Linked DNA regions of Homo sapiens: region 2 is linked to region 1. The links come from fine-mapping of genetic effects on gene expression. A gene starts in region 1. The other region holds a variant in brackets. All regions are shown on one strand. Distances are from middle to middle.

The links. PIP is the estimated chance that this variant, and not a neighbour inherited with it, causes the effect. A credible set is the group of variants that fine-mapping cannot tell apart.
Region 2: its variant is the best candidate, but not a certain one, in a credible set for the expression of WFDC8 in thyroid (GTEx, PIP 0.53).

The regions. Positions count from the first base shown.
Region 1 is chr20:45,576,953-45,582,336 of GRCh38, reverse strand. It overlaps WFDC8 (WAP four-disulfide core domain 8), which reads left to right and starts at 3,053. Exons shown (of 6, transcript NM_130896.3): 1 at 3,053-3,115. The coding sequence starts at 3,090. RefSeq lists an enhancer at 3,303-4,238.
Region 2 is chr20:45,551,576-45,556,959 of GRCh38, reverse strand. WFDC8 (WAP four-disulfide core domain 8) reads left to right here. Exons shown (of 6, transcript NM_130896.3): 4 at 1,092-1,259; 5 at 3,684-3,824; 6 at 4,795-5,198. The coding sequence ends at 4,934. Among named protein-coding and RNA genes, the nearest start is that of EPPIN-WFDC6, 6.9 kb to the right of the region's middle. The variant C/T (reference allele first, on the strand shown) is at 2,917.

The DNA.
Region 1 (5,384 bases):
ATGTATACATCATAATTTCATTTTGTTTTCCAAGTATCAGAACCCATATACATACATGATTGTATATATTTGGACGCAGAGAAAGATGGTAAGGGTACAAAACAGCCCATTAAAATTGGTTATTAATTATCAACCAAGGCTATTAATATTGAGGGAGTTAGAAATGGAGAGATGTGGCTTAGAAATTATTACCTTTTCTTTATATGTTCTTTGTACTGTTTCACTTATTGGGTATTTGATGTGTGTAATTTTATAATTAAAAATTCATAACTAGGACTCTTAGAAACTATTCCCAGTAAATCACCCCCCCAAAATATTGTCTAAAATACTTAAAATGCATGACTCTTTAAATCAATGAGTCAGTTGGCAAGAAAGAGGAATTCTTAAAAGCCAAAAATGATGTGAAGGTCTGACTCCAGAGAGATAAGGAAGTGCTTTAGTTAGAGGCTTCCCTGGGAGTATCTGCCAATGCCTGGTAATCTGCAGTTTGAATTTTAGTGGGCCCCTGGCAAGGGCAAGAAAAAAGAGCTAAGCCCTAAGCAATGTGAAAAGTCAGATCAGAAATCTCACTCACAAGGATCACCAAATGCTGACACCTTAATAAATGGATGAAACAGAAATAAATGGATGAAACAGAAACACACACATGCACAACTGTGGTGAAGGAACTTGCCTGTCTTGGCTTTGGCTCTGAACAAAACAGGAAAAAAGACTACTCTGGGCTGGGTGCAGTGGGTCATGCCTGTAATCCCAGCACTTTGGGAGGCAGAGGTGGGTGGATCACGAGGCCAGGAGTTCGAGACCGGCCTGACCAACATGGTGAAACCCCATCTCTACTAAAAATACAAAAAAATTAGCCAGGCGTGGTGGTGCGTGTCTGTAATCCCAGCTATTCAGGAGGCTGAGGCAGGAGAATCACTTGAACCCGGGAGAAGGAGGTTGCAGTGAGTTGAGATAGTGCCACTGCACTCCAGCCTGGGGAACAGAGCGAGACTCCATCTCAAAAAAAAAAAAAAAGACTATTCTGAGAATTTGTAACTGCAACCTTGTTTCCTTTCATAAGAGCAGAGTAGGAAAATTGGCACATGTGCATGGTCTGATAAATCTAAAGCTATGAATTTAATTCAAAATTGCATGAGTTGTTAGGGAAAAATTGAGGACAAGTTGATTCGGAAGAATTCTCCTTTAAACACAGGAATCCAAGAAATTCCACAAAGTATTGTTACATACATAAACTTCCATTAAATATGTACTCTCACAATAAAAAAAATCACACAGATCTTAAGAAAACAAGATGAAAAAAATCAAGAAAAACAACCAACAGCAGAGGTCCACAAAGACTTCAGATATTGGAGTTACTGTATTGTATTGTAGCGAGTTATTGTATTGTAGGAAAGGAACATAGAAAAAGGATTCCTGATTCTGTCTTTGGGGTAGGAAGGGCACGTGATAAAAACTTTCATTCAAAAGGTAAAAGACAAGCCAATAAGGGTTTTAGAAGATTACCCTTGATCCTGGAAGATGTTCATAATACATATAACTGAGGAAAGACATGACTCCAGTAGAAATCAGCAAGAAAAAGTCAGAAAACCCCAGAGAACAATGAGCAAAACATTTGAAAAGAAAATCAAAGAGAGGATAGCCAAGTGGTTAATAAAGATCTAAAAAGGTGCTCAACCTCATTAGTAGTCAAGAAATTTAAATTAAGTCCACAGTGATGTATTTCCATACTCGTAGCAGGATGGTAAAAATGAAAAGATTGTGACAGTTCTACATACAGCATGGTTATGGAACAATAGGAACTCTCAACTACCAATGGCAAGGCTGTGAATTGGTACAAACTCTTTGGGAAATAATTTGGTATCAGCTTGAGAAGCTGAAGATATGCATACCCTGTAACCCATCATTCCCTATGCTGAATGTATAACCTACAAGAACACCTGCCCACGTGCTCCAGCAAATGCACACAGAGTGTTCATAGCAGCTTTATTCTTTTTTTTACATGAGTAAATTGTTTAAAATTTTTTTGACATTTAAAAACATTTATTAATTCATTTAACGTAATAAACTTATTACATGTTGATATAAATAACATTTTTATTTAGAAAATCCTAGTTTTTTATTATACTTTAAGTTCTGGGATACACGTGCAGAACGTTATTACATACATGCTATGTATACACACAGCAGCTTTATTCTTAACAGCTGCAAACTATAAACAACTCAGTAGAGATGTGTGTAGTCATACAATAGATGGCATGGCAATGAAAATTGACAAAATACAGCTACACAAAACAATGTGGATGGAATTCATTAATATAATGTTGAACACAAAAAGCCAGGCACAAAAGAATACATTCCAAGTGACTCCATTGATATAGAACAGAAGCAGACAAAAACAAAAACATATTTAGGGGAATACATATGATCTTGAAAATATGAAAAAGAAAGTCACTACCATTAGCTGCCTTTGAGAGCATAGGAAGGGGTTGTGACTGGAAAAGAATGAAAAAGGAGCAGAAAGTGTTGGAAATTTTTTACTTGATTTCAGTGATAGTTTAATGAGTGGTCACTTCGTAATAGTTCGTTAGACTGAACATTAATGTTTCATGCATATTTTTATTTTTGTGGTGTTTTTCACAATACATATTTTTACAAAAAGGAAAAGTAGCTCTTCCTTGTTTTGTCTCCTTTTCTTTACTAACTGAACTAGTCAGTCCTAAAGCCATTAGATAGGCACATTTAGCAAGGTAGGCGTTTGCCCCAAGGGGAAGGGAGCCACGGCTGGCTCCGTGTGGGCATCAGAGCTGGAACAGGTCAAGGAGGGTGTCTCTGTAGGAGGGCTGCTGGCCTGGTGTGCTGGAGCCAGGGGTAGATGAGAATGCCCAGTGAAGAGGCAAGAAGCAGCATAGCATGGAGACCAGCCTGCCCATGTTGAGAAAGGCATCCCCCTGGGGCTAGAGGGGCAGACTGGCATAGAATGAGAGCCTGAGTGGGGTGAGCAGAGTGTCCAGGCAGGGGAGCAGATGAGGGAGGAGCCTTAGAGCTGGAGCAAAGTGAGGAAGCTGTCTCCATAGGGAAGAGGCCTGATGTGGACTGTCCGAACTGAAGGAGGGTGAGGAGGGTGTCTATGGGGGTGGGTAGCCAGACATGGAGGGTCTGAGCCCAAGGAGATGAGGAGGATACATAGAAGTTAGAGTGGTCGGCTGTGGGGAGTTGGGCCAAGCATAGTGAGGAGGGGTTCCACAGAACAGAGCTGTCTTGTGTCAGGAATCAGAGCCTAAGCAGGGTGAAGAGGGCATCAATGCATCCAGCGATTCTCCTGCCTTAGCCTCCCTAGTAGCTGGGACTACAGGTGTGCGCCACCACGCTCGGCTAAGTTTTGCATTTTTAGTAGAGACGGGGTTTCACCATGTTGGCCAGGCTGGTCTCGAATGCAACCTGATATGGCTGTTGGAGCCCAAGTAGGGTAAGTTGGGCATCTTTGAGTGGCCCAGTGTGGAGGGGCAGAGCCTGAGCAAGGTAAAGTTTGATATTTTAAATTAAACAAGCATATAATATGTATCTAAACATTTTCAAAAAATTAAAACAGGAGTAGTAGTGATGGGTTATATTATTATTCACAACTATTCATTCCATCTTTCCTTTAAGAGGACACTCCTGTCCATTACCTTGCAATTTTAGAACGGCCCGTGGAAGGAAGACACATTTCTGTCTCATTGACTTTGGGTTTGCTGTCAGCTGTGCTTTGCCTATTGGAGTATGAGCAGATGTAGCATATGCATAGTGAGTTTTGCACTGTGAGTTTCTGCCAGCTCCTTTGTGCTTTCTCTCTGCCAGGAGAAGGGGCCTAATCCACATAGAGGCTGCTTCTTTTGTCTTGGTCCCACAGCCTCAAGTAGAGCCCCCACTTGGAACAAAGCAGTAGACAATTTGCCTAGGAAGTCTTTTGTTGTGGCAAGCCATGGAGAGCTCAAAGTTCTTTGTACACCAAAGTAATAAAAATACAGTTGATTCCCATTACTTGGGGGTAGTTATGTTCTGTAAAGTCACTGTGAACACCGGATTAGCAAATACTGAGCCATTGCTCCTAGGGAAAATGCAAGCCTCTGACCACACATTTTCATCATTTGATCAATACATAACCTTGTTTTTATATGTGCTTCTGTCTGAAGACACATGACAGAGATGGTAATTAGAAGGTGCACACAGAAGACTTCTGGGAAGCTGGCTACTTTCTATTTTTTAATCTGTGTGGTTAATTATTAAATAAAACTCTACATACTTTATTTATTTATTTATTTTTATTTTTATTTTTTTTGTTTTGTTTGAGAGGGAATCTCTCTCTGTCCCCCAGGCTGGAGCATAGTGGTGTGATCTCGGCTCTCTGCAACCTCCACCTTCTGGGTTCAAGGGATCCTCCTGCCTTAGCCTCCTGAGTAGCTGGGACTACAGGTGTGCACCACCACTCCAGGCTAATTTTTGTATTTTTAGTAGAGACAGGGTTTCACCGTGTTGGCCAGGCTAGTCTTGAACTCCTGACCACAGGTGATCTGCCTGCCTCAGCCTCCCAAAGTGCTGGGATTACAGGCATGAGCCACCGTGCTGGCCCTGTCTTTATTTTTTAAACATGTATATAGGCCAGGCGCGGTGGCTCATGCCTGTAATCCCAGCACTTTGGGAGGCTGAGGCAGGCGGATCACTAGGTCAGGAGATTGAGACCATCCTGGCCAACACAGTGAAACCTCATCTCTACTAAAAATACAAAAAATTAGCAGGACGTGGTGGTGGGTGCCTGTAATCCCAGCTACTCGGGAGTCTGAGGCAGGAGAATCACTTGAACCCAGAAGGCGGAGGTTGCAGCGAGCCGAGATCGCACTACTGTACTCTAGCCTGGCGACAGAGTGAGACTCCATCTCAAAAAAAAAAAAAGACACCTTATGTAATATATATTATTGTTTCATTAACATTGAATTGTGGCTGAAAGCCCTGTAACTCATGCCTGAACCAAGCTTATCTGACACAAGTAATTTCTTTGTAAGGCACATTGCAGGCCTCTTGCTCTTAGGACACTTGACAGCACTTTAGTAATTCTTGGCAGCCATTTTAAACAGCAAACTCACCAACAAAAAGCACAAAAATGTGAAAAATGTGACACTAAGTAGACTGCAAAAAGGAAGCTTGTTTATAGTAGTAGAAGAGCTTAAACAAGCAGAGCGTTGCCTTGTTTGACTTCAGCTGGGAATGTGTACGTTGGGGGACTCAAATTTTTTGCCATTCTGCACATATCCCTGAATGACCACAAAAGCATCATGAGTATTGATTTTTGGGTAATAAATAAATTTCAGCAAGTAGGCAAATTGGCAAGTACAGAATCTGAATAA
Region 2 (5,384 bases), 25 kb after region 1:
TCAGACCAGCGGCAGACCACCAAACAGTGACCATGACCTTTTTTGGTGCAAGTTTGGCTTTGGGAAGTGTTTTTGAGCTTCTTCTTGGTCCAGCCACTAAGCTGGTCATCATTGGTTGTCGTGTAAAATCCACTTTTCATTGCACGTCACAATATGATTGAGAAATAGTTTGTTGTTGTTGCACAGAATAAGAGATGACCCTTCAAAACAATATATATTTTTTTAATTTTGCTCAGTTCATGAGGCACCCACCTATCGAGCTTTTTCACCTTTCCAATTTGCTTCAAATGCTGGATGACCATAGAATGGTTGACGTTGAGCTCTTCGGCAACTTCTTATGTAGTTATAAGAGGATCAACTTTGATGACTGCTCTCAGTTGGTCATTGTCAACTTCCAATGACCAGCCACAATGCTCCTCATCTTCAAAGCCCTCGTCTCCTTTGCAAAACTTCTTGAACCACCACTGCACTGTATATTTCTTAGCAGTTCCCGGGCTAAATGTGTTGTTGATGTTGCAAGTTGTCTCTGCTGCTTTACGACCCATTTTCAACTCAAATGAGAAAATCACTCGAATTTGCTTTTTGTCTGACATAATTTATATAGTCTAAAATAAATATAAATTAAACAGCAAATAATAAGTCATTAGCAAAAGTACAGGAAGCAAGAAATGTGCATTAAAATGATATATGATATAACCACATTTATTTAAGAATGTATTCTAATATCAAATGGCAAATTTTAACAATGCAAAAACCATAATTACTTTTGCATCAACCTAATAGTTGCTGAACAAGTCTTGCCCTACCAAAGCTCAGGACAGTGGAGAAGAAAGATCAGCTCCAAAGTACAAGATTCTTATATGCACCTTGTAATATTCTTTGCAAGGAAGGAGTGATGCTCAGAGGTGCCATACAACATAGACTATTAGTAGTAGAACTGGGACCAGAACCTATGCCTTTTTTTTTCCCCTGCCATGGCTCCTTTTATGACTTGGGTGATAACACCAGGAGTTATGAGAAATGCTAGGGAACTGACCCTGTTCTTTTATCTCTACTCTTCATATCCTTCTTTCCTTGCTTCCTGACCTCAGAACCCTGCATGCTACCTGTGAGGCATGGAAACTGTAATCATGAGGCACAGCGCTGGCATTTTGACTTTAAAAATTACCGCTGCACACCCTTCAAATACAGGGGCTGCGAAGGGAATGCCAACAACTTCTTAAATGAGGATGCCTGCAGAACGGCCTGCATGTTAATTGGTGAGACCTCTATCCTGGAAATCTGAGGGTCTAGTTTAACTAGAAATAGTATACCAATGAGGTTATAGGCTCAGGATTTGAGGTTAAAGTTCCTTGGTTCAAGACTTAGCTCTGTCATTCACTGGCTGGGAGGTCTTGGGCCAGTTGCCTGCCTTTATAAGCTTCAGTTTCCTTGTCTATAGAATGAGGTTAATAATAGTATTTACCTAATGGAGTGGCTCTGCCAAAAAATGAGATAGTGTATAGAAAATGTTAATAGATCTTGGCCAATGTGACCCGAAAGCCAGGTGTGCCCCCTTGGAAGAAGGTGTTTCCTCATCATAGTAACCTGTTGAGCATCATACTGAGGATTTGCTTAAGAATGAAGTGTAGACAGGCCAGCTCTGGAATCCCATGGAGTAAGTGTCCACACTGGAGGTGGAGAGTAGGGTGGGGTGAAGGTGAAGGCTGTGGATTCATTCCTTAGTATAATGATCATCACCAGCAATGTTGGGAAACAGTGTCCTACCAAACTTAGGAGTCAAATGACCTGAATTTAAATCTGACTTTTCCCACTTGCTGCTTTCTTCATTTCTTTGAATTTCAGTTCCCTCTTCTGTAATTCTGGAGTCACAGCAAACAGCTCGTTGAGTTGTTGGCAGGATTATATGTGATTTAAAACACAAAGACTTGATAGAGTGGTGGTCCCGTGGTGTGGGCTCACTAAACGGTAACAATTGAGATGGTGACCAGTGATCTTCACAACTGTGTGATTTATGAGGCAGCGTTGCAATTTCGACCTCAGATTCTGTGAGGCAAGCTGAAAAATGTACCATCACTACCACTTTACAGATGGGAGAACACAGTCAGAGAGGTGAAGTTAGTTGCCTGAGGACCCACAGTTGGTCAGGAGTAGAGGTGGAATTTTAATTCCATGGACCCATGGGCCTGAACGGCCAAGGCAACCCTGGGACCTGACTTGAAACTAGGACCACAAGCTTCCCTTCATGGGAAGCTCTAAGGAATCATGGTGCTGTGGACAAGAGCCTTGTCTCCTCTCCCAGGAAGACAAGGAAGAGGAGGCCAGGGAAATGGGCTTGGGCTGGTTTGTGGGAAATTTAGGTTAAGACTCAGAGGCAACCTGATAATACCTCTGAGAGTTCAACACATCATAGCCTGAGCCTGACCTGGGGAAGCCCTTGTAGAATTTGCAGTCAGATGAGTACAAGAGCATACAAAACCCCAAAGAATTGATTTAAATACCACCTATGTCCTAATGACCCACAAAGTTGTGTCTCCAGCCCTAATCTGACTCCTAAAATCCACTATCTGCTCTACATCTCCACCTGGACCTCACAAACATCTCATGTTGAACTTGCTTAAACAGAACCTCGGGCCAGGCACAGTAGCTCACACCTATAATCCTAGCGCTTTGGGAGGCTGAGGCAAGAGGATCACTTGAGCCCAGGAGTTTGAGACCAGCCTAGGCAGCATAGTGAGACCCAATTTCTACAAACAACAACAACAAAACCAAAAACAAAAACAAAAACACAACAACAAAAAAAACAGGCATGGTGTCACGTGCCTATGGTCCCAGCTACTCAGGAGGCTGGGAAGATCACTTGAGGAGGTATTCCCACCTCCTCAAAGATCACTTGAGCTGGGGAAATTGAGGCTT[C/T]GTTGAGTGACAGTGGGAAACCCTGTCTCAAAAACAGAAAAATAAGCTCAACATAAACATAAACCAGTACCTCTTACCATCACTCCCCTAACGCAAACCGGTTCTATCCATGCTTCTCATCTTGGTTGAAAAACTTCACAATCACAGTTGATGCCTCTCTTTATCAATTAACATCCATTAAGTTAGTTAGGAAATAATTTTAGTTCTACCTTGAAAGTAGATCCTAAATCTGGTAAAACCTTACCACCTCCGCAGCTGCCACCCTGATCTGAAGAGCCATCTTCTTACTTGGATTACCCCAACAGCCTCTTAAAAGGTCTCCCTGCTTCTATCCTCCTTACAATCTATTATAAACACAATAGTCACAATGACCCTTTCAAAACATGAGTCAGGCCATATCACTTCTCTACTGAGAACAGTGTGATGGATCCCCATTTCATTCTAAGTAAAACCAAATACCCTAAAATGGCTTACACTGATTTGTGTAGATTTCACATAATTATCCTCATTTTACAGAGAAGGAAACTCACCAAGTAGCAGGACTGGGACTTTACCATGGGGCTTAAGGCACCAAGCCCAGCATGCTCTCTACCATATCCCATGATATGATGAGACATTTCATTCTTCCACAGCCTACTGGAGATGGATAGGGTAGGGTGAACCAAGTTGCAGAAAGGGATACTAGCTTTGAAGAGAAGGAAAGGCTCTTTGAAGGGTGGTGGGATGGGGGTGGGGTTTTAAGAAGCTCACATCTGCTCTTATTTTAGTTAAGGATGGACAATGCCCACTCTTCCCTTTCACTGAACGTAAGGAGTGTCCACCTTCATGTCACAGTGACATCGATTGTCCCCAGACAGACAAATGTTGTGAATCCAGGTGTGGCTTTGTTTGTGCCAGGGCCTGGACAGGTAAGGATTGGGGATATACCTCCCAAATCTATTGGGCATGTGCCAAGGATGTCATGCTGTCTCCATGGAGTGGGGGGTGTCTTGAACCTCAGATGCTCCTTGGGCTCATCTTTGAGGATCTTTGGGAACCCCTTTTAATGCCCAACAAGTTATATTGACCTCTTGACCTCTGAAGACTATTGTGCTGTTCTTCAAAGCCAGTAATTCATAGCATTGCTCTCTATTCTTCCCCAAGAAAACTTATTTTTTCTGAGACTCATTCCTCAATGACTTGCAAGGTGACAATATTCACCGATTCATAAAAAATTCATAACCATGAGGTGTATTCCTAATAAGCCCTCATGTCTGCACAGAACTTCAAAGCATGCACATCATATTCATATCCTGTAAGATGGGCTGGGGAAAACATTAGTAGCAAATGATGTTGGATAGAAGCCAACTTTCCTGCCTCCTCTAAGGCAGGTGTTTACTTCCCCATGTAGTCCCAGGGATTGTCCAGGTGTGGCTTTAAGGTTCTAAGGTTCAGTATAGTGTGGTGGCAGGAGTCCAAGGCTTTTCAACCTACTTCAACTTTTCTACTGGCTTTCTATGTGGCATTGGGCAACTCATTTCCCTCTAAATACGCCTCAATGCCTACAATTTGTAAAACAAGAAGGTTCTGTGTGCTAATACTCCTGCCACCTGTGGTACTCTGGGGTTATATAACCCAGATCCATTAATTCTGTAGGAGCAGACAGGAATCCTATCAGATGGTACAAGTCAGAGATGGTAAGACTTTTCTTGATGCTCCTCAAGTTATTAGTCGTAGAAAGTTGATACTCTGCCTCCTCCAGTCTATTGTTACTGTAGGGGGAAAGGTAAGAAGCTTAATCAGAATAAAACCTTGTTTGAGATTCCCAAGATTCCTCAAATTTGTCTCAAATTATGACCAAGTATTTCAAGGTCAAGTGTTTTCTTTTACCCCATAAAGTCAAAAAAGGTTTCTGCCCACGCAAGCCCTTGCTATGTACCAAGATTGATAAACCCAAGTGCCTGCAGGATGAGGAGTGCCCATTGGTGGAAAAGTGCTGCTCACATTGTGGACTGAAATGTATGGACCCCAGACGTTGAATAGTAAGTAGAAAATATTATCATCAAAATCATTAATTATGAGTAGCATGATAAAGAGCTGTCAGTTTTGTCTTGTATCCAACTTGCCAAATTATCTTAAGTATCACAATATTGAATGATGTTACTTTGATTTTATATATAATCCCATCATCTGAAAGTGATGATATATTTGGCTTTTTTTCAACTTCATGACTTTATTTTCTTGTCTTCTTGTATTGTGTAGAACCTCCAAAATAATAATGAAAATAAAGGCAATGGCATCCATCCTTGTCTAGTTCCTTATTTTAAAGTCAATGGCTCCTGCACTATAAAAAGATATTTGTTGTTGAATTTGGAATACATAAGTTTTATTGCACTTAAATTATTTTCTTTTTCCTTTTCTTTCTTTCTTTCTTTTTTTTTTTTTTTGTGAGACGGAGTTTTGCTCTTATTGCCCAGGCGCAATCTCGG